Homo sapiens: one gene and its partners. The protein of the gene in region 3 interacts with the protein of the main gene of each other region in a biochemical or structural test. Each region holds a gene or a part of one and is shown on either strand. Other genes may lie near its edges. The genes, in order: SQSTM1, LRRC59, CSNK2A1, MAP1A, CLNS1A, ANP32B and EIF5B.

Region 1 (3,500 bases), on a different chromosome or scaffold from region 3:
GCGCCCCGCAACATGGTGCACCCCAATGTGATCTGCGATGGCTGCAATGGGCCTGTGGTAGGAACCCGCTACAAGTGCAGCGTCTGCCCAGACTACGACTTGTGTAGCGTCTGCGAGGGAAAGGGCTTGCACCGGGGGCACACCAAGCTCGCATTCCCCAGCCCCTTCGGGCACCTGTCTGAGGTGAGCAGGCCCTCTGTGCAGGCCTGGGGTGGGCTCAGGGTGGCAGGAACCTTGACCCGCTCACTGCCTGCCGCTCTGCTAATTCCTCCCCCAGGGCTTCTCGCACAGCCGCTGGCTCCGGAAGGTGAAACACGGACACTTCGGGTGGCCAGGATGGGAAATGGGTCCACCAGGAAACTGGAGCCCACGTCCTCCTCGTGCAGGGGAGGCCCGCCCTGGCCCCACGGCAGAATCAGGTGAGGCTTGTGTTGGAACCTGCTTCTGATTGGTGACAGTAGTCAGGCAGCCTGTGTGCAGGGCCCTTGTGCAAAGCGTGTGTGCAAGGCAAGAATTCAGGATACCCCCCACCTTCCTGGTGCCCTACAATCACACAAGAACCCTGCAAAGTGGGGTGTATTCTCTCCATTTCCCAAATGGGGAAACTGAGGTGCCTAAGTGCCTGAGGCCACAAATTTACCTGCACAGCCCTTCCTACCTCAGGAGGCTGCCCTCTCAAGGTACCCTGAGGTGCAGGCAGGGAGGCCCTTCCAGCCCAGGGGTCTTTGATGCACTTTGTTCTCTTTTGTGATGGTTGTCAGGAAGATCAGAGCCAAAGTTGCTGAAGTCCTTTGAAACATAGTTATAAGTGAAAGACTTACCGTTAGCTTTGTAGTCTAGATTTTTGGATTCTGATTTTATTAATGTTACTGTGTCCTGTGAATCACCTCACCCTTTGGGACAAAGATGGGGATGTTTGCTTGACTTTGAGTAAATAACATATTTACTCAAGGAGGTGATCAATATTCACAGTGTACTGAGCCTGAGCCTCTGTGGGGTTGCTGAGCACCAGGGTCACAGATGAGGGGGAGATGGCACGGGAGAGTGGAGATGCTCTCTGTGCAGGGCCAGGGGGTGCAGAGTGGGAGGAAGGAGAGGGGGATGCTGAGTGGGTCACTGGACAAGATGTCCGGGTTAAAGGTCACCCGGGAACACAGGGACCTTGGCAAGAAGGTGACAGGACTGTGACAGGTATCCAAGGCATTAAAGATATCTTTATCTTATCTTTGTAAAAATCAAAGCTTCTGGTCCATCGGAGGATCCGAGTGTGAATTTCCTGAAGAACGTTGGGGAGAGTGTGGCAGCTGCCCTTAGCCCTCTGGGTGAGTGCACCTCCTTGCCCAGTGCTTCCCTAACTCAGCCTGCACTTTATGTAACTTTCACCTGGAATACTGCAAAGGAATGGGTAATTGACATGCCCTTGACACTGGTGAGGATTTGTTGCCTCAAATCAACCTTTAGTAGTGCTGGACCACGGGCAACTCAAGGTTGAATTCCCTGACAAAATTCTCGAGCTTTCTACATGGAGTGAAGTCGAATCAGCTGGCATTTGGTTGGGATAATCCCAGTGAGGGAGGGTGACCAGACTGTGGTTGCAGGTCTTGCCTGTCACCTCTGACTGCCCTCCTTTGGATGAACAATAGTCTGCAATTTCCCCTAAGCCAGGCCTTGGGATTTGGACTTTTGAGGACCTGGGTAGTAGTTAGTTGACATGCTATTTATCTTTTCCTTCTTTTAGTTTACAACCCCCAAACCTTTCTGGTGCTTCTGAGTGCTGGGCCTGCCTCAGAGCGGGGAGAAGGTGGAGGCAGGTGCTCTGGGTGACACCCGGTTCTGGTGCCTCAGGTTGCACAGTGGGTCTGTGGGGTGGGTGAAGGTGCCACCTGACCCCAGGCATGAGCTCAGGCTCTGAGACCCCTCCCTGCTGGGCTTTAGAAAGTGCCTGTTGCGTCTGGCTAAGGGTCTCGGGTGGGTGCTGCAGGGTTAGGCATGCGGCAGTGAGAATCAGTGAATGAAGCCAACTTCTAGTTCAAGATGACGGTGGATCTGTGATGGCAGATGGATCGCTGGGACACCTGCATCTCTCGCTAGACGAGTGAGCTTGTTTTTGTGACTGCAGTGGCAGGCTGTGTCCACCCAGCCTGTCCAAAGGTTGTGTTCAGTGTCTGAAAGAATGCTGCTAGGAGGGGCGTCCGAACCATGCCTGCTGCCTCCTGTGGCTACAGGGCGTGACTGCCATCTGCTCCAACTTTGCTCATTCCGATTTTTTTTTTTTTTTGAGATGGAGTCTTGCTCTGTCACGGAGGCTGGAGTGCAGTGGTGCCATCTCTGCTCACTGCAACCTCCCCCTCCTGGGTTCAAGTGATTCTCCTGCTTCAGCCTCCTGGGTAAGTGGGATTACAGGTACCCGCCACCACGCCCAGCTAAGTTTTGTATTTTTTTAGTAGAGACGGGGTTTCGCCACGTTGGCCAGGCTGGTCTTGAACTTCTGACCTCAGGTGATCCACCCGTCTTGGCCTCCCAAAGTGCTGGGATTACAGGTGTGAACCACTGCGCCTGGCCTTGCTCATTCCACTTTGAGGCGGCAGTGACATCTTGGCATTGCTTCTGAACTAAACAGCCCAAACACGCATGGCTTCTGTACTAGAGTTTAGAGGTGAAGTCAGAGAATAGGAAAGAAGAATCGCTAGTCTGTTTTTTTTTTTTTTTCTTTGAGACAGACTTTCACCCTTGTCGCCTAGGCTGGAGTGCAGTGGTGTGATCTCGGCTCACTGCAACCTCTGCCTTCCAGGTTCAAGCGATTCTCCTGCCTCAGCCTCCCAAGTAGCTGGGATTATAGGTGCCCACCACAACGCCTAGCTATTTTTTGTATTTTTAGTAGAGACGGGGTTTCACTGTGTTGGCCAGGCTGATCTCGACACCTGCCTCGGCCTCCCAAAGTGCTGGGATTACAGGTGTGAGCCACCGAGCCCGGCCAAGAATCAGTATTCTTAATGCTTTCCAAGGAGGGTAAACAGTGGAACACCGAGGTCATGATTGAGAGATCGGCTGTGCCTAAATCCTGCCACTCACTCTGGACGTAGTAAAGGTCTGAGAGATTGCCGGTGAATTTGGAGATATGAACAAGAGTCCTTCACTCAAAGAACAAAGGAGACATCCCGGGAAGTCACAAAACCAAGTCTAGGTTCAGGTAGAGACTTTTAAAACAGTGCAGATCCCCAGACCTTACCTTTTTTGATCCTGGTGAGTGAGTGTTGGTGGGGCCTGGGATTTGTCTGGGAGGCTGCCCAGGTGCTTGGGGTCACACTGTCTCAAGACCCACCTGTGCTGGTGCAGCATCTCGGAACTGAACTGGACGCCCCACTTGGCACAGACAGGAATAATCTTGCAGATGCTCAGATGTCTTTTTTTTTCTGAGACGGAGTCTCGCTCTGTTGCCCAGGCTGGAGTGCAGTGGCACGATCTTGGCTCCTGGGTTCACGCCATTCTCCTGTCTCAGC
Region 2 (3,500 bases), on a different chromosome or scaffold from region 3:
CTTGTGCATCTTTTGATGGGGAGCAAGAAAGAAGGTGATTTTATGGGCTACCTTATCATTATTCTCCCAAAGGACTTGAATTAGTTGAGATTTGCTCAATGTGGTCAGCACATTCAATCCATGATCAAATCCTTTTTATTTTTCTTGCACAACGTCTGCTAGTTTTCCTTCCACTCCACCTGTGTAGACAGTGGATTCATTCAGCCCCTCAGCCTCTCTGACATAGTAGTGCTCCTGCACCGTCAGGCCTAAGTGTGCTATTGCCACTTCCACCCATCACTCTAGCCGTGCCACTCCTTGCTGTACTCCAGGGTGACTTCCTATTTGGCCCTGGCTGTGGCTCAGAGGTCGAATTCAGAAGTTGGCAATGTCCTCATTGGATTATTAGTCCACTCACCTCTCAGTATTCTCCTAGGCCTTGCTCATCGTCCACAGTACCTTGTCACAGCTCATCAAAAACTGTTTCTAACATTCAAAAAGCATCGAGATCTCACTTCTTCCAGAAAGTATTTTGTGTTGAATAAAAGAAGAATATGTTGGGAGCTGTGGTTCATGCCTATAATCCCAGTAACTCAGGAGGCTGAGGTGGGAGAATCACTTAGCCCAGGAGTTTGAGAGCAGCCTGGACAACATAGCAAGATCCCGCCTCTAAAAAATTAAAAATAAAAGCAGGTTAGCAATTCCTTGCAGCCGCACTCCTTCTGTACACTTTGCCAGATGGTCATTCAGCCAAGTGCACTTTTCGATCTGAGCTTGTTCTGTTGTCTGTACTGACAACTTCCATTTCACTCTGCATTTCAGATCCACTGGCATTTCCAAGTCCCTAGAGAGCATGAATAGTGCCTCATTAGCTGAGGTTGTACCATCGCTTTCAGATGGGTGCTTAGCAAAGGTTTAATGTCAGGGGGATGTTTTGACCTGTGTTGAGAAAGAGCCAGGACTTGGGTAGGATGGACCCCAGCCCGTTCAGTTAGTTATTCACAGAATGTCTGTTGAGCACCTGTGTTAAGTACTGTGCTAGGTGCTGCAAATAACAAGAATCAGACTGAGTACTCCAGGAGTGCCTGATCTTTTTAAGAAAATGAACGAGCACGCTGTTTTGACAGATCCTATGAATGGTGAGCATAGGGTGCTGTGGAAGGACAGAATGGGTAACCACACCTCTCCAGGAGCAGTGTGGAGGGTAGGCTGGAGCAAGAACTGAGGGTGAAGGAATAGTGTTTTGTGCCTACTTTGTGCTAAGCCCTTTTCCATACATATCTTGGTAATTATCACCAGGTGTGGTAGGTGTTCTCTGCATTTTCATTTGAGGAAGAACGGCTGCTAACAGTAGAGCCAGGATTTTTACATGGGGTACCTCTGACTTGAGGGCTTCCAGACTGTTACACCGAAGTGTGTGAGCCCAAGGCTTAGATGAGGAGTTTCCAATCTTGTGGCTTCCCTGGGCCACATTGGAAGAAGAAGAGTTGTCTTGGGCTACACATGAAATACACTGATGAGCTGAAAAAGGAAAAAAAATCTCGTAATGTTTTAAGAAAGGTTACAAATTTGTATTGGGCCACATTTAAAGCTGTCGTGGCTCGTGTGTTGGACAAGCCTAGCTTAGGTTCTCTCTTTGGATCCTAGTCGGATTTCTGTGGCCTCACACACCTGGTGAAGCTAGACCTGAGTAAGAACAAGCTGCAGCAGCTGCCAGCAGACTTTGGCCGTCTGGTCAACCTCCAGCACCTGGATCTCCTCAACAACAAGCTGGTCACCTTGCCTGTCAGCTTTGCTCAGCTCAAGGTAACAATTCATGAACCAGTGTTTCATGGCCAGGGTGGCAGAGAACTCAGGGACTCTGGAGCACGGCCCTGAGAAAGGCTGACAGAAATACCCCCTTGTTGGTCCTGCCTCAGATGGCGCTCCCTATATGTGGAACACAGAGGGGCATTCTTCCTGCTCATTTTGTTTCACCCTGAGGGACTATGTATGTGAACTCGGGCTTAATGAGCCTCTTTGCCCATCGCCCATCTCTTTAGAACCTGAAGTGGTTGGACCTGAAGGATAACCCCCTGGATCCTGTCCTGGCCAAGGTGGCAGGTGACTGCTTGGATGAGAAGCAGTGTAAGCAGTGTGCAAACAAGGTAAGCACCAAGCTCCCTCCCAGTGGCTCCTTATACACTCCCTGGGATTTCTCCTCCTCCTGTTTTTCCCTCCTAGGGCACCTGGAGCTTTGTGTGGAGTTAAGCATTCAGGTCCGAGTGAAATATGTCCACTATGAGCCTGTCAAACAGAGACCTTTGTTTCTGCATTTACTTTATCTTTTTGTTTTTTATTTGTTTTGAGACAGAGTTGCTCTGTTGCCCAGGTTGGAGTGCAAGTGGCACAATCTCGGCCCACTCCAACCTCCGCCTCCCAGGTTCAAGCGATTCTCCTGCCTCAGCCTCCCGAGTAGCTGAGATTACAGACGCCTGCTACCATGCTCAGCTAATTTTTGTATTTTTTAGTGGAGATGGTGTTTCGCCACGTTGGCCAGGCTGGTCTCCAACTCCCGACCTCAAATGATTCGCCCACCTTGGCCTTCCAAAGTGCTGGGATTATAGGCGTGAGCCACCATGCCTGGCCTGCACTTAGTTCGCAAGTCGCAGAACAAGACTGCCTTCTCTACTGCAGTACTTCCTCTCTTAAGGAGCCGGGACCTTGCGTGATGCAACATGACACTGTGTGGACAGTTGTTTTAATAGTACCGGGGGTTAGGGGCTGTGGCCTTTCTGAGGCACAGTCGTAGGAATGTTGATAATAAAAGCGATGATAAAGGTGTTACAGCTGTAAGCAGGCACGTCCTGGGCAGACCTGGTATTTGATTACAGTTGAGTCATCTGACATAGGAGTGAGGAACTGAAAGCAGCATGCAAGACAACTATTGTCTGTGGTCAGTAGCCTGGAAGGTGCCGTACCCTACCTATTAAGAACAGCATTACACCTATCTCTTAATAACTCCAACTATAGTCACTTTTTCCCTCCAGCTTTGGAACAGATTGCTGCTGCTTCAGCTGAGCACCAGATGACTAACTTGGCTATGTTTAAGGTGCATGTTGAACAAAAAAGACTTAACTTTAAATACTAGAATTCATGGGTGAATGATGAGTCTCTGCTGTCTCAAGTAGAGAGTAAGAGAGTAAGATACTTCTTATCATTAGCTCAGGGCTTCTTATATAATCTTGTCATCTGTATCATCTCTTATTACAACAAATCAAGCACAAAGTTAACCAAGTAGCTAAGACAAGAGTTTTCCCTTAGATGAGAACAGTATAAGTGATCAGTGAAATCCTCTTTTGAAAACTAGGTGCTGTAGGAGTGATGTCTGTTCTGCAAGCTGACAGTAGCTACCATTGATTACTCTTTCCTTGTCCTGGATGCTTTCCATGCACCATCTCACAATCCTCAGAGCCCTGAGGAGTCGGCATTACTTTCATTTCTCTGACACAAGAAACCCTCAGCATATACACACCTTTCAT
Region 3 (3,500 bases):
TTTGTGGTAATTTGTTATGGCAGCAGTAGAACACTAGTATAGATTTTGGTACCAGGAGTGGGGTACTATTACCTAAAAATGAAAGTGGCAGTAGATAAAGGTTAGAATTGTTTTGAGGGGCATGATAGAAAAGGCCTGGAACACAGGAGGATCGCTTGAGCCCAGGAAGTCAAGGCTGCAGTGAGCGGTAATGGCACCACTGCACTCCAGCCTGGGTGGCAGAGTGAGACCCTGTCAAAAAAGAAAAGGCCTAGGACATACTTTTAGTAGCAATATGGATGTTAATGACTCTGCTAGTGAGGGCCCAGACAGAAGTGAGGTCTTTCTTATTGGAAACTGGCAGAAAGGGGATCCTTGTTACATAGTAGCAACTAAGTTTAGCAGAATTGTATCCTATGGTTATATGGAAAGCCAAATTTGCAAGTGATGAACTTGTATATTTAGCTGAGATTTCCAAGCAAAGTATTAAATGTGCAGCCTGGTTTATTTGTGAATGTGAACTTTAATGGAGTGGACCCATGTGGAATACTTCCACAGCCCATTAGGTTCTTGAGAATTTTATGCCAACATAAACAGTTCTAGTTTGGATTGAAAGAGACAGAAAGTAATAGGGCTGTTGGACCCCCCAAATTCTACTGATAGGAAGCAGGCTGATAAAACTACTCACATGTGAATGTGTTGCTTTTCATAAAAGAATCAGGGTGACTCAGACGGAGATAGGAGAGCCCAGAGGGGTGGAGCTAAAAGCTGGAGAGGATTTTTCCCAGGCTTTGAAATGGAATGGAGATTCCCTAGATTTTGAAACTGCTTTGGACCGGAGGCTCTGTTTTCTTTTACATTTTGCCCATTTGAACTGGAATGTCTAACTGTTATTCTCTACATGTCTCACAGTGGTATGTTGGGAGTAGAGAACTTGTTTCTTTAGGAATTGTGCCCCAGGAATTGGACTTACTGTTTTGTCCCCAGAACCTCATCCACACCTGAATAGATGAATGAGATTTGGGACTTCTGAAATGATAAGCTTTAGATGGGAAACCTTTGGGACCTTGGGATGGGATGGATGTATTTTGCATTTGAGAGAGAGATGAATCCTTGGAAACCAGAAGGCAGACTGCGGTAAGCAGAATGGCTCCCCTACGATTTCCATACTATAAACCCTGGAACATGAATATGTTAAGTAGATTTAATTAAAGTTAAGGATCTTAGGTAGATTATCTTGGATTTTCTGGGTGGGTTTATTCTACTCACATAAGCACTTAAAAGCAGAGAACTTTTTCTGGCTGGTGTCAGAGATGAGGCAGAAGGGGAAGTCAAATTTGAAGCATGAGAAGGACTCAGCCTGCCGTTACTGGAGGGGACCAGATTGAAAGTGTGAGACGGGGAATGCAGGCAGCCTCTAGTAGGAAAGGCCAGTCCCAGCTGACAACCAGCAAGGAAGTGGGAACTCAGTCCTACAGCTGCAAGGAACTAAATTCAGCCAATAGCTTGAATGAATGTGGAAGCAAATTTTCCCCAGAGTTTCCAGCAGGGAACCCACCCACTGGATACCCTCATTTAGCCCTTGTGAGACCCAGTCAAGCCCACTGACTTCTGTAAGATAATCCATTTGTGTTGTTTTGTTTGTGATAATTTGTTATGACACAATGGAAAACAAATACAGGGGTTTTGCTGGTTTTATTTTAGAGTCTTTGGGATATCATTTTCTAGAGAACAAAGATAGCAAAGATTCTATAAAACAATTTAGTCCTGGAAGACTCCACGGAATAATGGTGTTGAGTGGAACCTGTGCCTGTTTCTTGATGTTTGAATATTATTATTGTCCTTAGATGCAGTTTGAAGGGGCTTGATGGTCAGCTTAGTGAGATGTAGTTTCTGAAGGTCTAGGACATTGGTAGGATTTCTGTAAATAGGTGGTTCTTCCATATCTTGGATAAATGACATAATTTCTTCATTAGTTTTTATTGGCTTAATAATGGGTTTCTATGACAGCCTTTTAAGGCTTATTTCATATTTTTTTAGAGGAGATGGAAATGGGTGATACATTTTTGTGAATTTGTAACTGTCTCTCTGTTCTCTCACACCTCCCACCCCACCCCAGCTCAGCTCAAACTTGTAAGATCTTTTCTCCCTGTCATTGTCTGTTGAGGTTGTTGAGTTTAAGAGTCAGATCTGGGAATCATCACTACAGAATGGAGTTTCTAGCTTTTAAGAAAAGTCTTTTCTTTTTGTTCTTTAAAGTATCCTATTAATTGGATTCATAAAATATGGACTAACTAAACTTTAGTCAGAGGATGAAGGAAGTGAGACCATTTCTTTTGAGTTATTACCTGAATAGAAAGATGATTACAAGATTAGCATTTCAGGGTATGAAAGACTTTAGAGGTTATGTTTGACTTTGGGTTTAGAGTAAGGGAAATTGGGCCACATGAATGTTAACTGGTCTACTAAGATATCTCAGCCCTAGAGCTAGTCTAGAATCCTGGTCCAGCCAATAGAGAATCATGACTTTTGAACTATGTTCCCTGAGTACCCTTTTCTACTGTTGGCCGGGCATGGTGGCTCACACCTGTAATCCCAGTTCTTTGAGAGGCCGAGGTGGGCAGATGACTTGAGGTCAGGACAAGACCAGCCTGGCCAACATGGTAAAACCCCATCTCTACTAAAATTAGCTGAGTGTGGAGGTGCGTGCCTGTGGTCCCAGCTACTCAGGAGGCTGAGAATCACTTGAACCTGGGAGACGGAGGTTGGTTGCAGTGAGTCAAGATCACGCCACTGCACTCCAGCCTGGGGGACAGAGCAAGACTCCGTCTCAAAAAAAAAAAAAAAAGATGTTAACTGTCTATAATATTCAACTATATGACAACTTTTGCATAAATATTACAGTATGATTTGTACAAGTTCAGAAACTGAAAACCAATATGATTTGCCATTGAATTAGGTAAGGGCTTAGTATTTTAAGGTAATAAATAATGTGATACTTGATTTGAAATGAGAAACTGGGTTTTGATCTGTCACAATTCGTGGGTAACCTGGATAAGGTTTGTTTCATGAGAGTATTAATGTGTTCTTATACCTGAATTTCTTTGAACTTCTGAAATGGATAATTTCGAAAGTAGCATGTCATTTAGTTTATAGAGAAATCTAGGCCAGCCAGCTTTTCAAATGAAGAAATTCCTCTAGGATTATTAAGGAAAAGTAGCTGCTGTCATTGTAACAAAGGATGTATTTTCATTGGGTTATAGACAATTGGTAGTTTTCTTACGTTGAGTGCTCCCAGATGTACTTTTTTTTTTTCACATGTAGAAGTCAAAGATTGAGTCTTTTAAAAAGTTTAAGGTGAAAGCATTCACAGTATCACAAGATACTGCTAAGAGTGGCATTTTAACTGGTTTCTACAAATTCTGTCTTTCAGTCTTAGACATTAAAAAACCCTACGTAGCAACAGTTGCTATGGTCGGCAAGCTTCTTTACATTCGTGGTGATAATGTTTTCTTGCATAG
Region 4 (3,500 bases), on a different chromosome or scaffold from region 3:
TTCTCAATATAAATTCCTACATCTCTCCCTCAGGCCAGAGGACCCTTTGCCACCAGAGTGAGATCCTAGAGACCATCATCCTGGTAAATCCCAGTGCAGACAGCATCAGCTCTGAGGTAAGGCCAGGGCCTGTGCCTTGCCAAACAGGCCTGGTGCAAGTGCTATACCCACCCTTGCCAGTGCTACCACTATTAGGCCAAGAATTCCTCTCTCTGCCATCTAAGCTGACGTATTGTCTCCAGCCCACTCTGGAGGTGTTATGAGGGACATAAGTTGGGAGCATGTTCTTGAGGTACTGAGGGGCCATTCATTGCCTTTCCCTGGATTTCCTATATCTGTGACCACTCCCCTTCTTCCATTCCAGGTTCATCATCTTCTTAGCAGCTCATCAGCTTATAAACTACTAATCTTGAGTGGGCAAAGTTTAGAGCCTGGGGGAGACCTCATCCTACAGAGTGGCACCTACTCATATGAAAACTTTGCCCAGGTCCTTCACAACCCCGAGGTAAGTTCCATGCCAGAGTGTCTGGGAGAAAGGGTAGCACTAGAGCTGTGGGAGGGATCTAAGGGAAAGTCTCATATTGCATGACCATGGGGGGCCCTGGCAGAAAGGTAAGAGTCCACCTTGGAAAGAGGTGAAGATTAGGGTACTGAATCTAAGTCAGACCAAAACAACTCTAGTGACCTGATCAGGTTTCTATCTCCTATTCTTCTAGATTTCCCAATTGCTCAGCAATAGAGACCCTGGGATACAGGCCTTCCTTACCGTGTCCTGCTTAGGGGAAGGTGATTGGAGCCACCTGGGATTATCCAGTTCCCAAGAGACCCTGCACCTCCGGCTAAACCCTGAGCCCACTCTGCCCACCATGGACGGCGTGGCTGAGTTCTCCGAGTATGTCTCTGAGACTGTGGACGTGCCATCCCCATTTGACCTACTAGAGCCCCCCACCTCAGGGGGCTTCCTCAAGCTCTCCAAGCCTTGTTGCTACATCTTCCCAGGTGGTCGTGGGGACTCTGCCCTCTTTGCTGTCAATGGTTTCAACATCCTGGTGGATGGTGGCTCTGATCGCAAGTCCTGTTTTTGGAAGCTGGTACGGCACTTGGACCGCATTGACTCGGTGCTACTCACACACATTGGGGCAGACAACCTGCCAGGCATCAATGGACTACTGCAGCGCAAAGTGGCAGAGCTAGAGGAGGAGCAGTCCCAGGGCTCTAGCAGTTACAGCGACTGGGTGAAGAACCTTATCTCTCCTGAGCTTGGAGTTGTCTTTTTCAACGTGCCTGAGAAGCTGCGGCTTCCTGATGCCTCCCGGAAAGCCAAGCGTAGCATTGAGGAGGCCTGCCTCACTCTGCAGCACTTAAACCGCCTGGGCATCCAGGCTGAGCCTCTATATCGTGTGGTCAGCAATACCATTGAGCCACTGACCCTCTTCCACAAAATGGGTGTGGGCCGGCTGGACATGTATGTCCTCAACCCTGTCAAGGACAGCAAGGAGATGCAGTTCCTCATGCAAAAGTGGGCAGGCAATAGTAAAGCCAAGACAGGCATCGTGCTGCCCAATGGGAAGGAGGCTGAGATCTCCGTGCCCTACCTTACCTCTATCACTGCTCTGGTGGTCTGGCTACCAGCCAATCCCACTGAGAAGATTGTGCGTGTGCTTTTTCCAGGAAATGCTCCCCAAAACAAGATCTTGGAGGGCCTAGAAAAGCTTCGGCATCTGGACTTCCTGCGTTACCCTGTGGCCACGCAGAAGGACCTGGCTTCTGGGGCTGTGCCTACCAACCTCAAGCCCAGCAAAATCAAACAGCGGGCTGATAGCAAGGAGAGCCTCAAAGCCACTACCAAGACGGCCGTGAGCAAGTTGGCCAAACGGGAGGAGGTGGTAGAAGAGGGAGCCAAGGAGGCACGTTCAGAGCTGGCCAAGGAGTTAGCCAAGACAGAGAAGAAGGCAAAAGAGTCATCTGAGAAGCCCCCAGAGAAGCCTGCCAAGCCTGAGAGGGTGAAGACAGAGTCAAGTGAGGCACTGAAGGCAGAGAAGCGAAAGCTGATCAAAGACAAGGTAGGGAAAAAGCACCTTAAAGAAAAGATATCAAAGCTGGAAGAAAAAAAAGACAAGGAGAAAAAAGAGATCAAAAAGGAGAGGAAAGAGCTCAAGAAGGATGAAGGAAGGAAGGAGGAGAAGAAGGATGCCAAGAAGGAGGAGAAGAGGAAAGATACCAAACCTGAGCTCAAGAAGATTTCCAAGCCAGACCTAAAGCCCTTTACTCCTGAGGTACGTAAGACCCTCTATAAAGCCAAGGTCCCTGGAAGAGTCAAAATAGACAGGAGCCGTGCTATCCGTGGGGAGAAGGAGCTGTCTTCTGAGCCCCAGACACCCCCAGCCCAGAAGGGAACTGTACCACTCCCAACCATCAGTGGGCACAGGGAGCTGGTCCTATCCTCACCAGAGGACCTCACACAGGACTTTGAGGAGATGAAGCGTGAGGAGAGGGCTTTGCTGGCTGAACAAAGGGACACAGGACTAGGAGATAAGCCATTCCCTCTAGACACTGCAGAGGAGGGACCCCCAAGTACAGCTATCCAGGGAACACCACCCTCTGTTCCAGGGCTGGGACAAGAAGAACATGTGATGAAGGAGAAAGAGCTTGTCCCAGAGGTCCCTGAGGAACAAGGCAGCAAGGACAGAGGCCTAGACTCTGGGGCTGAAACAGAGGAAGAGAAAGATACCTGGGAGGAAAAGAAGCAGAGGGAAGCAGAGAGGCTCCCAGACAGAACAGAAGCCAGAGAGGAAAGTGAACCTGAAGTAAAGGAGGATGTGATAGAAAAGGCTGAGTTAGAAGAAATGGAGGAGGTACACCCTTCAGATGAGGAGGAAGAGGACGCGACAAAAGCTGAGGGTTTTTACCAAAAACATATGCAGGAACCCTTGAAGGTAACTCCAAGGAGCCGGGAGGCTTTTGGGGGTCGGGAATTGGGACTCCAGGGCAAGGCCCCTGAGAAGGAGACCTCGTTATTCCTAAGCAGCCTGACCACACCTGCAGGAGCCACTGAGCATGTCTCTTACATCCAGGATGAGACAATCCCTGGCTACTCAGAGACTGAGCAGACCATCTCAGATGAGGAGATCCATGATGAGCCGGAGGAGCGCCCAGCTCCACCCAGATTTCATACAAGTACATATGACCTGCCCGGGCCTGAAGGTGCTGGCCCATTCGAAGCCAGCCAACCTGCCGATAGTGCTGTTCCTGCTACCTCTGGCAAAGTCTATGGAACGCCAGAGACTGAACTCACCTACCCCACTAACATAGTGGCTGCCCCTTTGGCTGAAGAGGAACATGTGTCCTCGGCCACTTCAATCACTGAGTGTGACAAACTTTCTTCCTTTGCCACATCAGTGGCTGAGGACCAATCTGTGGCCTCACTTACAGCTCCCCAGACAGAGGAGACAGGCAAGAGCTCCCTGCTGCTTGACACAGTCACAAGCATCCCTTCCTCC
Region 5 (3,500 bases), on a different chromosome or scaffold from region 3:
TTGCATTTCTCTGAGCCTGAATTTCATCCAAAAAGTTAAGGGAGTATATTAGTCTCTTGTTCCCAAACTCAAGACTAATGGATACACATTAGAAATACATGGGAAGCTTGTTTAAAATGCAAATGCTCTGAGTCCTAAACTAGGAAAAAGCAGTTCAGTAGGTTTTAGGGTGTGTGTTTTAAATATGTGCTCTATAATCATACAGAATCTATATGATTGGTTGTAATTGATGTGATTATGATTAATCCTTTCTTAGTAAGATATGCAGGATTTCCTATCTTACTAGAAATTAGTATCTTTCTGGGTCACATTTATTTCACTAATTCTCCAGTTCCTTTTTTTTTTTTCTTTTTTTTTGAGATGGAGTCTTGCTCTGTCGCCAGGCTGGAGTGCAGTGATGCGATCTTGACTCACTGCAACCTCTGCCTCCTGGGTTCAAGCGATTCTTCTGCCTCAGCCTCCCGAGTAGCTGGGACTACAGGCTCCCGCCACCACGCCCCGCTAATTTTTTTTTTTTTGTATTTTAGTAGAGTTGGGGTTTCACTGTGTTGGCCAGGATGCTCTCCATCTCCTGACCTCATGATCCACCCACCTCAGCCTCCCAAAGGGCTGGGATTACAGGCGTTAGCCACCTCGCTTGGCCCTTTAGTTCTTTTTATCTTAAACTCCTCTCATAAATTACATGTGCTTGAATCATATTTTCCCAGCCTTTGTTCCTTGCATTCTGATTCTCTAAGCTCTAAGTTTTTTTTTTTTCTCTTTGGCATACCTCTGTAAGTCTCTTTAAAAATGACCATCAGGGCTGGGCGCGGTGGCTCACACCTGTAATCCCAGCACTTTGGGAGGCTGAGGCGGGCGGATCACGAGGTCAGGAGATCAAGACCATTCTGGCTAACACGGTGAAACCCCGTCTTTACTAAAAAAAATACAAAAAAATTAGCCAGGTGTGGTGGCGGGCGCCTGTAGTCCCAGCTACTCAGGAGGCTGAGGCAGGAGAATGGGGTGAACCCAAGAGGCAGAGCTTGCAGTGAGCCGAGATGGCACCACTGCAGTCCAGCCTGGGCGACAGAGCAAGACTCCGTCTCAAAAAAAAAAAAATGACCATCAGGACCGGGCATAGTGGCTCACATCTGTAACCCCAGCATTTTTTTTTTTTGTGATGGAGTCTCACCCTGTCACCTAGGCTGGAGTGCGATGCTGTGATCTTGGCTCACTGCAACCTCCACCTCCCAGGTTCAAATGATTCTCCTGCCTCAACCTCCTGAGTAGCTGGGATTATAGGCGCCTGCCACCACGCCTTGCTAATTTTTGTATTTTTAGTAGAGACGGGGTTTCACCATATTGGCCAGGCTGGACTCAAACTCCTGACCTCGTGATCCGCCCACCTCGGCCTCCCAAAGTGCTGGGATTACAGGCGTGAGCCACCGTGCCCAGCCACAATCCCAGCATTTTGAATGGCCAAGACAGGAGGATCACTTGAGCCCAGGAGTTTCAGACCAGCCTGGGCAACATCGTAAGACCCCATCTCAAAAAAACAAAAATTAGCAGGGTGTGGTGGCAAGTGCCTGTAGTCCCAGCTGCTTAGTAGGCTGAGGTGGGAGGATCGCTTGGGCCTGAGAGGGCAAGGGTGTCCAGTCTGGGCAACAAAACAAGTCCCAGTCTCAGAAAAAAAAGTTGACCCTTAGCTCATTGTTGATGAGATTAGATTACCTTAAAAATAACCTTAAAAATTCATTCCCGGTGAGGCGCGGAGGGAGCACTTTGGGAGGCCAAGGTGCGTGGATCTCGAGGTCAGGAGATCGAGGCAAGGCTTTTCTAGGATGCTCACTGTATAATCAGAATTTTTCAACCATAATTGGAAATAAATTTGTCAACCATAATTGGAAATTAAAATTGAATTGCAATATTCAGATTTTCAATATGCTTCATTTTTTTAAAGTCAAATAATGACATTAAAAGGGTATTTTATTTTCTAGAAGAATCAAAAGAACCTGTTGCTGATGAAGAAGAGGAAGACAGTGATGATGATGTTGAACCTATTACTGAATTTAGATTTGTGCCTAGTGATAAATCAGCGTGTGAGTGTTCTACAGTATTGATTCTTCCCCTTTTACATACCAAGCATTCCCAATTGACACACACACACATACACACACACACACACCTCTCACCTTTACCACCATTACCTCCATTCTATTGCTTTTTCTTTATTTTAGCATTGGTAATATCATTAAGGACCAAATACCTATTAATATCAAAGGTTGTGAATGTAGTGAGAATATTGTAGACACTCTGTCATCTGGGTATATTTTGTGAGTGGACTCTGGTTAGTTTTACTGATTGGTGCTGTTGACTTAATCTCACCTGCTGGATGGCAGAGGAGTTATGGCAGTTTTAAAGTGGAAGATCTCAGGATGGCTGGAAAGAGCCCTATCAGCTGAGAGCAGTCTTCACCCTTCACCCTGATGCCAGCAGTCTTACCAGGACTCTGACCCTTTTTTCTTGGAAAATCCCACGAGCCATGAAGAGATTGCAATGATCTCTCATAATGAACTCTTATTATTTTATGACTTGTCTTTTGCTTCAACCGCTTTCAAGATTGATCTTACAATTTGGCAGATTTTGTAAATACTGTGGCGTTTTGTGTACCCATTAAATTTATTTGCACTGATGGTTACTTTTATTACAAAAAAAGATTGGTTACAGTTTAATTTCCTTGTTCAGTGGAGGCAATGTTCACTGCAATGTGCGAATGCCAGGCCTTGCATCCAGATCCTGAGGATGAGGATTCAGATGACTACGATGGAGAAGAATATGATGTGGAAGCACATGGTTAGTGAAATGGATTTTAAAGTGGGTTTTTTGTTTGTTTAGTGTTTCATTTTAAGCATTTATTTGTATTAAGGGTAGAGGATTATAGTTCTTTATATGACTGTAAAGTATGCAGTATGGTAAAATTATTATTATTATTTTTGAGATGGAGTTTTCGCTTTTGTTGCCCAGGCTGGAGTGCAATGGCGTGGTCTCGGCTCACTGCAACCTCTGCCTCCTAGGTTCAAGCGATTCTCCTGCCTCAGCCTTCCAAGTAGCTGGGATTACAGGCATGCGCCACCACGCCAGGCTAATTTTGTATTTTTAGTAGAGATGGGGTTTCTCCATGTTGGTCAGGCTGGTCTTGAACTCCCGACCTCAGGTGATCCGCCTGCCTCGGCCTCCCAAAGTGCTGGGATTACAGGTGTGAGCCACTGTGCCTGGCTGGTAAGATTATTATTAAAATAGAATGACACGGTAGAACACTTTATGCCAAAGCCCTTTGCAACAGACAAATTTTTGAGTGTAAGAAATAGAGATTGTTATGGGGAAGAATGGGTAAGTAGAGCATATGGGAGGAAAGAAAATGGTAGATAGGGAAGTGGATGGTCAGGAAAGTCTTTTAAGCTGAGGCAGCTGCCCCCAGAGAACAAGCTTCTCTCTCTACACCTTGAGAACCTGGATCATTT
Region 6 (3,500 bases), on a different chromosome or scaffold from region 3:
GGTTCTGAATCAAGAGAAAAACTTCGGTATTCTCTAAGAAGATAGTACTAAAAACACCCAAACAAACTTTAAGAGGACCTCCACATAAAATAATTTCTAAAAAAATAAATGTTGATGCTTAACAGGTTTTGCTGCTTTATTAGGAAAGCTGTTACAACACTCACAAGGACCTGAGAAGAAATGCAGACAAAACAAAACCTTATTTTCAGAACTCAAGGTATCTATGTAGTTCTGAGGAGATATAAAATGGTGTGAAAATCTGCCTCAAGGCTCTAGAGCAGGGGTTGGGAACCGGTGGTCCAGTGGCCAATTCTGGCCCACCACTTGTTTTTGTAAAATAAGCTCCATTGGAACACAGTCACACTCATTTATTTATGTATGGCTCCTTATGTACTAAAATGGCCAAGCAGACTAGTTGTGACAGAGACTATATAAACAGGCTACAAAGCCAAATGAACCTACTATTTGGCCCTTAGAGAAAAGGGCTACTGACCCCTGCACATGAAGAACTTCATCTTCTTGATGAAGAAAGAGGCTCCCACACTTGTTTTATTCATGCAGGGAACACACAGCAGGGTTACAGCAACAGGAAAACGTTGCACCCCTCAAAACACAAATTGTACAATGATCCAAGAGTCTGTGGATCAAACAATGTGCTTATATAGTCAGTTCCTTGACGTTTTAAGAAAGCTGTCCCCAGCCCTTCTGGTCATAGAGCTGCTTTTGTATCATGTAATTTTCAGATTAGCTTCCCTTCCAGTCAGGCCCTGACTTCCAGAAGCCCAGGTATGACTTCTTGCCAAAGAGGAAAAAAATGCTGCAATGCCACCCCAGATGGCTAGCTAGCATACTGGCTTTCTCTTCACAAAGGCTGACTCGATGCCAGCTAGAGTCAGCTTTAGGCAGCTTTTCCAAAAAGGTTCACTCTAAAAATTCTCCACTTAAAGGAATGAGCCATTTATATTTCAGAATTATTTCCTAGAAATAGGTGCACAAAAACACATACAACCTCTGATATTTATCTAATGCTTTTTAATACCAAAAGCCCTTTCTCTATCTAGTTTCATTGACTCTTCCAGTACACAGGGCCTCCAAGGCTCTCCTGTTTCTGAAACTGTACAATTATGTGAGATTTTTGGCTACTTCCTGGCAAAGCACCCCTTCTCAAACAATTTGGACATGCCAATCAGTAGTTTGAAAAATGAAATGAAAGCAAGAAAACAACAAAAATCCCAAATAACTGTAGTACTCTGGAACTGCTGAAAGTAGTAAAATTGTGCTTTAAGGCCCAATAGGCACAAAATACACTACACACAGATTATTCAGGATCCCAATGTAATGTGTAAATACTGATTAAAAAAAATTACAACTCTACCATACCAGAAATTTGATGTAAGCTAATAGGCTAGCCATAATAAACATTAAACATTTTATTAACAATAATTTTGCTTGCCTTCTTAGAATTTAGAAGGGCTTTGGGGGATGGTTTGGATGGCCCAGGTCTCTTAAAAAAGGTGTCCAAGGAAGTTTGAATTGATGCCTTCTTTGTCTCTCGATTAATGTCCCTGTAGCAAGCAGAGGCATTCACAATCATTGCATTGACTATAAGAACTGGGCTCAAAGTAGACGGTGTTCAAAATGTATGTGGTTAATGAGGATGAGGATGGTGTTTTTCCCCACTGAAGAATACTGCCAGAAGTCAAAATGGACCCAACTCTTCCCCCCTTCACCTTCTCCTACAGATTTACTTAATTCCAAGTTAGAACTTCAGGAGACCAACCTAGCACCGCCAGGAATCTGAGTGCCAAGTATAGCAGAATGGCGGGACCCCAGGCTTTTCGAAATAGCTCTGGTGTGTAGCCCTGTGGCTCTGCCACAGGGTGTGTGACTCTGGACAAGGGATTCAGCCTCACCCAAGCCTTAGCTTCCTCAATATAAAACAAGGGCCATGCTATTTCTATCCACTTTGTATCGAAGGTTTTTTTTTTTACAATTACTAATAAAACATGCATAAAGCACCCAGTAAATGTATGGGTATAGCAGATCCTCTAAAAATGGTGAACACAACGAAGATTACTTTTTATCCTTCACTATCCTGGGGGACTGAGACTTTCACAGCCACCAGAGGGTCCTCTCATACATTACTGACCAGATCAGGAAAAAACTCAAGCAAACAACTCCCACACAGTATTTGCTTCTGCTCCATTGCTGTGTGCTACAACACTGAAAAAGGCTTCTGATAATCAGAGGATTCAGGCTGCCACGAGAACTAGGTAATGGCCAGTCATCAACTGGCCAACAGTGAAAAGGTACTGCCTGCTACTCTGTTCTTTAAAAATTAAAAGAGAAGGCCAGGCATGGTGGCTCACGCCTGTAATCCCAGCGCTTTGGGAGGCTGAGGCAGGCGGATCACGAGCTCAGGAGATCGAGACCATCCTGGCAAACACAGTGAAACCCCATCTCTACTAAAAATACAAAAAACTTAGCCAGGCATGGTGGCAGGTGCCTGTAGTCCCAGCTACTTGGGAGGCTGAGGCAGGAGAATGGCGTGAACCCAGAAGGCGGAGCTTGCAATGAGCCGAGATGGCGCCACTGCACTCCAGCCTGGGTGACAGAGCGAGACTCCGTCTAAAAAAAAAAAAAAAAAATTAAACCAGAAAAAAAAAGGGGGGTGGCGGGGAGAAGGGTTTCTTATGCTCACAACCTAGGATTAGTATGTCTGTCACTAACCAATAAACAAAGGCTTAGTGTAGCCCATGTGAACGGGAAAGCATCAGCAGTTAAAATTTGGTGCTCCTGTTGGAATTCCCAGCTTAAGGAAATTTGGGCATGAAATAAATTTACAGGTGGAAAGAGAAGAAGAGGTCCCAAGGGCTATGGAAAACACAGCAGACTTCGAATTTTTTTTTTTTTTTTTTTGAGATGGAGTCTTGTTCTGTCACCCAGGCTGGAGTGCAGAGGCATGATCTCAGCTCACTGCAACCTTCGCCTCCTGGGTTCAAGTGATTCTCCTGCCTCAGCCTCCCAAGTAGCTGGAATTATAGGCGCCTGCCACCACGCCTGGGTACTTTTTTGTATTTTTAGTAGAGATGGGGTTTCACGTTGGCCAGGCTGGTCTCAAACTCCTGACCTCAAGTGATCTGCCCGCCTCGGCCTCCCAAAGTGCTGGGATTACAGGCGTGAACCACCGTGCCCAGCCTAGACTTAGATTTGAATCCCTACTCTGCCATTTCTCCTGAGCAATTATCTACATTCTCTAAACTCAGCTTCCTCATCTCTAAAAAGAGGACAGTCATTCTCTCTTCTCTGGGTTACTTAAGGATACAATGGGCAAATGTTCATGTCCTTGGATGCAGCAAAAGTCAGTAAATGTCGGCTTAAATACTGGAAATGGGGGTTGGTTTGAAGGAAACGAATAAAACTAGTAAGAGCCCGAGTATCTGGGTATACCTGTAATAGGAAAAAGGGCAAAATGCATGGAGCACTGGTGAGGCATCACA
Region 7 (2,719 bases), on a different chromosome or scaffold from region 3:
GCATGGCTCCAGCCTGATCGACAGCTTGTCTCAAAACAAAATAAAAAAAAATTTGAGTGTTCTAGGATTTTATTTTTTTTGAGATGGAGTCTCACTCTGTCGCCCAGGCTGGAGTGCAGTGGCAGGATCTTGGCTTACTGCAGCCTCTGCCTCCTGGGTTCCAGTGACTCTCCTGCCTCAGCCTCCCGGGTAGCTGGGATTATAGGCATGTGCCACCATGCCCACCTAATTTTTCTATTTTTTGTAGAGACGGGGTTTTACCATGTTGGCCAGGCTGGTCTCAAACTCCTGACCTCAGGTGATCCGCCCTCCTCGGCCTCCCAAAGTGCTGGGATTACAGGCATGAGCCACACCGCACCTGGCCAGGACTTTTTTTTTTTTTTGCCAAAGTCAATTTTTATATATAAAAAGGAATAATTAGTCTTAAGGACCTTTCCTAATTCCTAATGACATTTCTTCTCTCCCCACCTTTAGGCTGATGCAGCAATCGGTGGAATCGGTTTGGAATATGGCATTTGACTTTATTCTTGACAATGTCCAGGTGGTTTTACAACAAACTTATGGAAGCACATTAAAAGTTACATAAATATTACCAGAGAGCCTGATGCTCTCTGATAGCTGTGCCATAAGTGCTTGTGAGGTATTTGCAAAGTGCATGATAGTAATGCTCGGAGTTTTTATAATTTTAAATTTCTTTTAAAGCAAGTGTTTTGTACATTTCTTTTCAAAAAGTGCCAAATTTGTCAGTATTGCATGTAAATAATTGTGTTAATTATTTTACTGTAGCATAGATTCTATTTACAAAATGTTTGTTTATAAAGTTTTATGGATTTTTACAGTGAAGTGTTTACAGTTGTTTAATAAAGAACTGTATGTATATTTTGTACAGGCTCCTTTTTGTGAATCCTTAAAAACTCAACTCTAGGAAGCAACTACTGTTTATTATACTAAAAGGCTGAAAAACCTCCAGGCCAGACTGCTAAGCTCTGAAATTCCTGAGAGGTCTCAGACCGGGATTCTACTTGTTCCAAGAAAGGGTAAAGCTTCTAAACCATCTTATTCTTGTCTCCAAGCATGAACACAGGAGCATGTTAAGAAAATCTTTACTACTTCTTCCATGCGGAGAAATCTACATATTTTGAATTAGAAACACCCTCACACCCACTTGAAGATTTTTTTCCTGGGAACATTATGTCCCGTAGATCAGAGGTGGTGTTGTCTTTTTGCTTCTACTGGCCATTGAGAAACTTTGATGATAAAAAAGAACGGTATAGATTTTTCAAACGTATATAAAATATTTTTATGTTATATGTTATGCCATAACTTTAAAATAAAAATAGTTTAAAATTCTATGCTAGTGGATATTTGGAACTTTTTCCTCAAACAAACACCCCACACTGACTTCAGCAAAACCCTAAAACTAGCTACAGATTACTACTACGAATGAATCATTAAGTTTTGTGTCTGCAACAATTTAGAAGCACTAAGCCCAAATATCAGGAAATGTGTGTATGATGGAATTTTCTAGGACAAAACAGATCAAGATTAAAACAGATCAAGATTAATGTATAAAAATCTCTACTAAAACAGATCAAGATTAAAACAGATCAAGATTAATGTATAAAAATCTCTACTGTTACCAGGTGCTGGCATACAAGGTAGTGTGATGATAGTTTAGTTTGTAAGATAATTCTTGTCCTAGGAGGACAACTTGTGGGAGAGAAGCTACACTAACATGGAAGCCTAACAGAGCTTGCTTACTGGTGGATGTCTGTTTTCTTTATTGGTAGTTTGGTTTAGAATTGTGATGATTACAATGGACTCGTGACTACACAAGCAGTAAAAAGCAGCCAGCTGTGCTTTTACACCATGGTTTCACACAAAGCAGCTAAAGAAATATCAGAATGCCTAATTTTCTATTTTATAAAAGCCCTAAAGGCATATGGCAGAAGAATGCTGGAAAAATCACTGTGGGAAGAATATGCATAAATAAAGAAGTATTTCTTACGTCAAAAAAGTCCCAAGAATCACAAAATCTGCAGAAGCTTGGTTAATCAAATACTGCAGTACTGATTTAATCAGTATAAAATCGAAAGAGCTTTAGATCTGTAATAAAAATCCAAATTTGGGGAAGGGCAAACTTTAAAACAGCAGCCAAGTAGAGAAGGGTTGGGGAAGGGAGAGGTGAGTGAACAGGCACATTGGAACTGTGGGGACATGTAACTGACCACTGTCAAACCAGTGTAAGTTTCTTGGTTTCTCATGGAAAACATTTTATACACCTATTTTTCTTCCTTCCATACTTAAGTCCATCAGTGTCCAAATACGTCTGTTCCATTTTTTGTCTGATTTTTGTTGGGATATTACAACACAGTATTGCATTTACTCCAGTTCCTGCTCCATGTGAAAAAATTAGATGATTTCAAATACTTTCTTCAGCTCCACAATAAGCTGCCAGTCACTCTTCTGCATTTCATCTCTGAACCAGTCTTTGAGTGCATCAATGGACTGCCGGCTGATCTGCAATGCCCGAGGCACAAACAGGGTAAACAGAACATAACAAACGTGCCAAAGAAAGCTGTGGCCCCAGATGCCCGCTCTCACTGTACTAAAAAGCTTAAGCAGAAATAAAAAACAGGGCTTGCCTGCCTAAGGGAGTAGAATTCCAAAATCACATCTGGTTTGCATGTCAGGCACGAGGGGACCTAAAAGTCCTAGC

The links.
Region 1: of the proteins of CSNK2A1 (region 3) and SQSTM1, one has a biochemical effect on the other in vitro, tested with the Homo sapiens proteins (2 studies listed by BioGRID).
Region 2: of the proteins of CSNK2A1 (region 3) and LRRC59, one has a biochemical effect on the other in vitro, tested with the Homo sapiens proteins (one large-scale study listed by BioGRID and IntAct).
Region 4: of the proteins of CSNK2A1 (region 3) and MAP1A, one has a biochemical effect on the other in vitro, tested with the Homo sapiens proteins (one study listed by BioGRID).
Region 5: of the proteins of CSNK2A1 (region 3) and CLNS1A, one has a biochemical effect on the other in vitro, tested with the Homo sapiens proteins (one large-scale study listed by BioGRID and IntAct).
Region 6: of the proteins of CSNK2A1 (region 3) and ANP32B, one has a biochemical effect on the other in vitro, tested with the Homo sapiens proteins (one large-scale study listed by BioGRID and IntAct).
Region 7: of the proteins of CSNK2A1 (region 3) and EIF5B, one has a biochemical effect on the other in vitro, tested with the Homo sapiens proteins (one large-scale study listed by BioGRID and IntAct).

The regions. Positions count from the first base shown.
Region 1 is NC_000005.10:179,823,905-179,827,404, forward strand, and holds part of SQSTM1 (sequestosome-1), read left to right. Parts: coding exon 1-183; intron 184-277; coding exon 278-419; intron 420-1,241; coding exon 1,242-1,322; intron 1,323-3,500. UniProt on the Homo sapiens protein: Molecular adapter required for selective macroautophagy (aggrephagy) by acting as a bridge between polyubiquitinated proteins and autophagosomes.
Region 2 is NC_000017.11:50,391,024-50,394,523, reverse strand, and holds part of LRRC59 (leucine-rich repeat-containing protein 59), read left to right. Parts: intron 1-1,626; coding exon 1,627-1,785; intron 1,786-2,021; coding exon 2,022-2,126; intron 2,127-3,500.
Region 3 is NC_000020.11:537,291-540,790, reverse strand, and holds part of CSNK2A1 (casein kinase II subunit alpha), read left to right. Parts: intron 1-3,500. UniProt on the Homo sapiens protein: Catalytic subunit of a constitutively active serine/threonine-protein kinase complex that phosphorylates a large number of substrates containing acidic residues C-terminal to the phosphorylated serine or threonine.
Region 4 is NC_000015.10:43,520,608-43,524,107, forward strand, and holds part of MAP1A (microtubule-associated protein 1A), read left to right. Parts: intron 1-33; coding exon of another isoform or gene 34-116; intron 117-364; coding exon of another isoform or gene 365-505; intron 506-716; coding exon of another isoform or gene 717-866; coding exon 867-3,500. UniProt on the Homo sapiens protein: Structural protein involved in the filamentous cross-bridging between microtubules and other skeletal elements.
Region 5 is NC_000011.10:77,624,295-77,627,794, reverse strand, and holds part of CLNS1A (methylosome subunit pICln), read left to right. Parts: intron 1-1,976; coding exon 1,977-2,078; intron 2,079-2,724; coding exon 2,725-2,832; intron 2,833-3,500. UniProt on the Homo sapiens protein: Involved in both the assembly of spliceosomal snRNPs and the methylation of Sm proteins.
Region 6 is NC_000009.12:98,000,341-98,003,840, reverse strand, and holds part of ANP32B (acidic leucine-rich nuclear phosphoprotein 32 family member B), read right to left. Parts: intron 1-3,500. UniProt on the Homo sapiens protein: Multifunctional protein that is involved in the regulation of many processes including cell proliferation, apoptosis, cell cycle progression or transcription.
Region 7 is NC_000002.12:99,399,108-99,401,826, reverse strand, and holds the end of EIF5B (eukaryotic translation initiation factor 5B), read right to left. Parts: intron 2,521-2,719; coding exon 2,413-2,520; 3' UTR 587-2,412; downstream 1-586. Other genes in the region: DNA repair protein REV1, read left to right, coding at 475-586. UniProt on the Homo sapiens protein: Plays a role in translation initiation.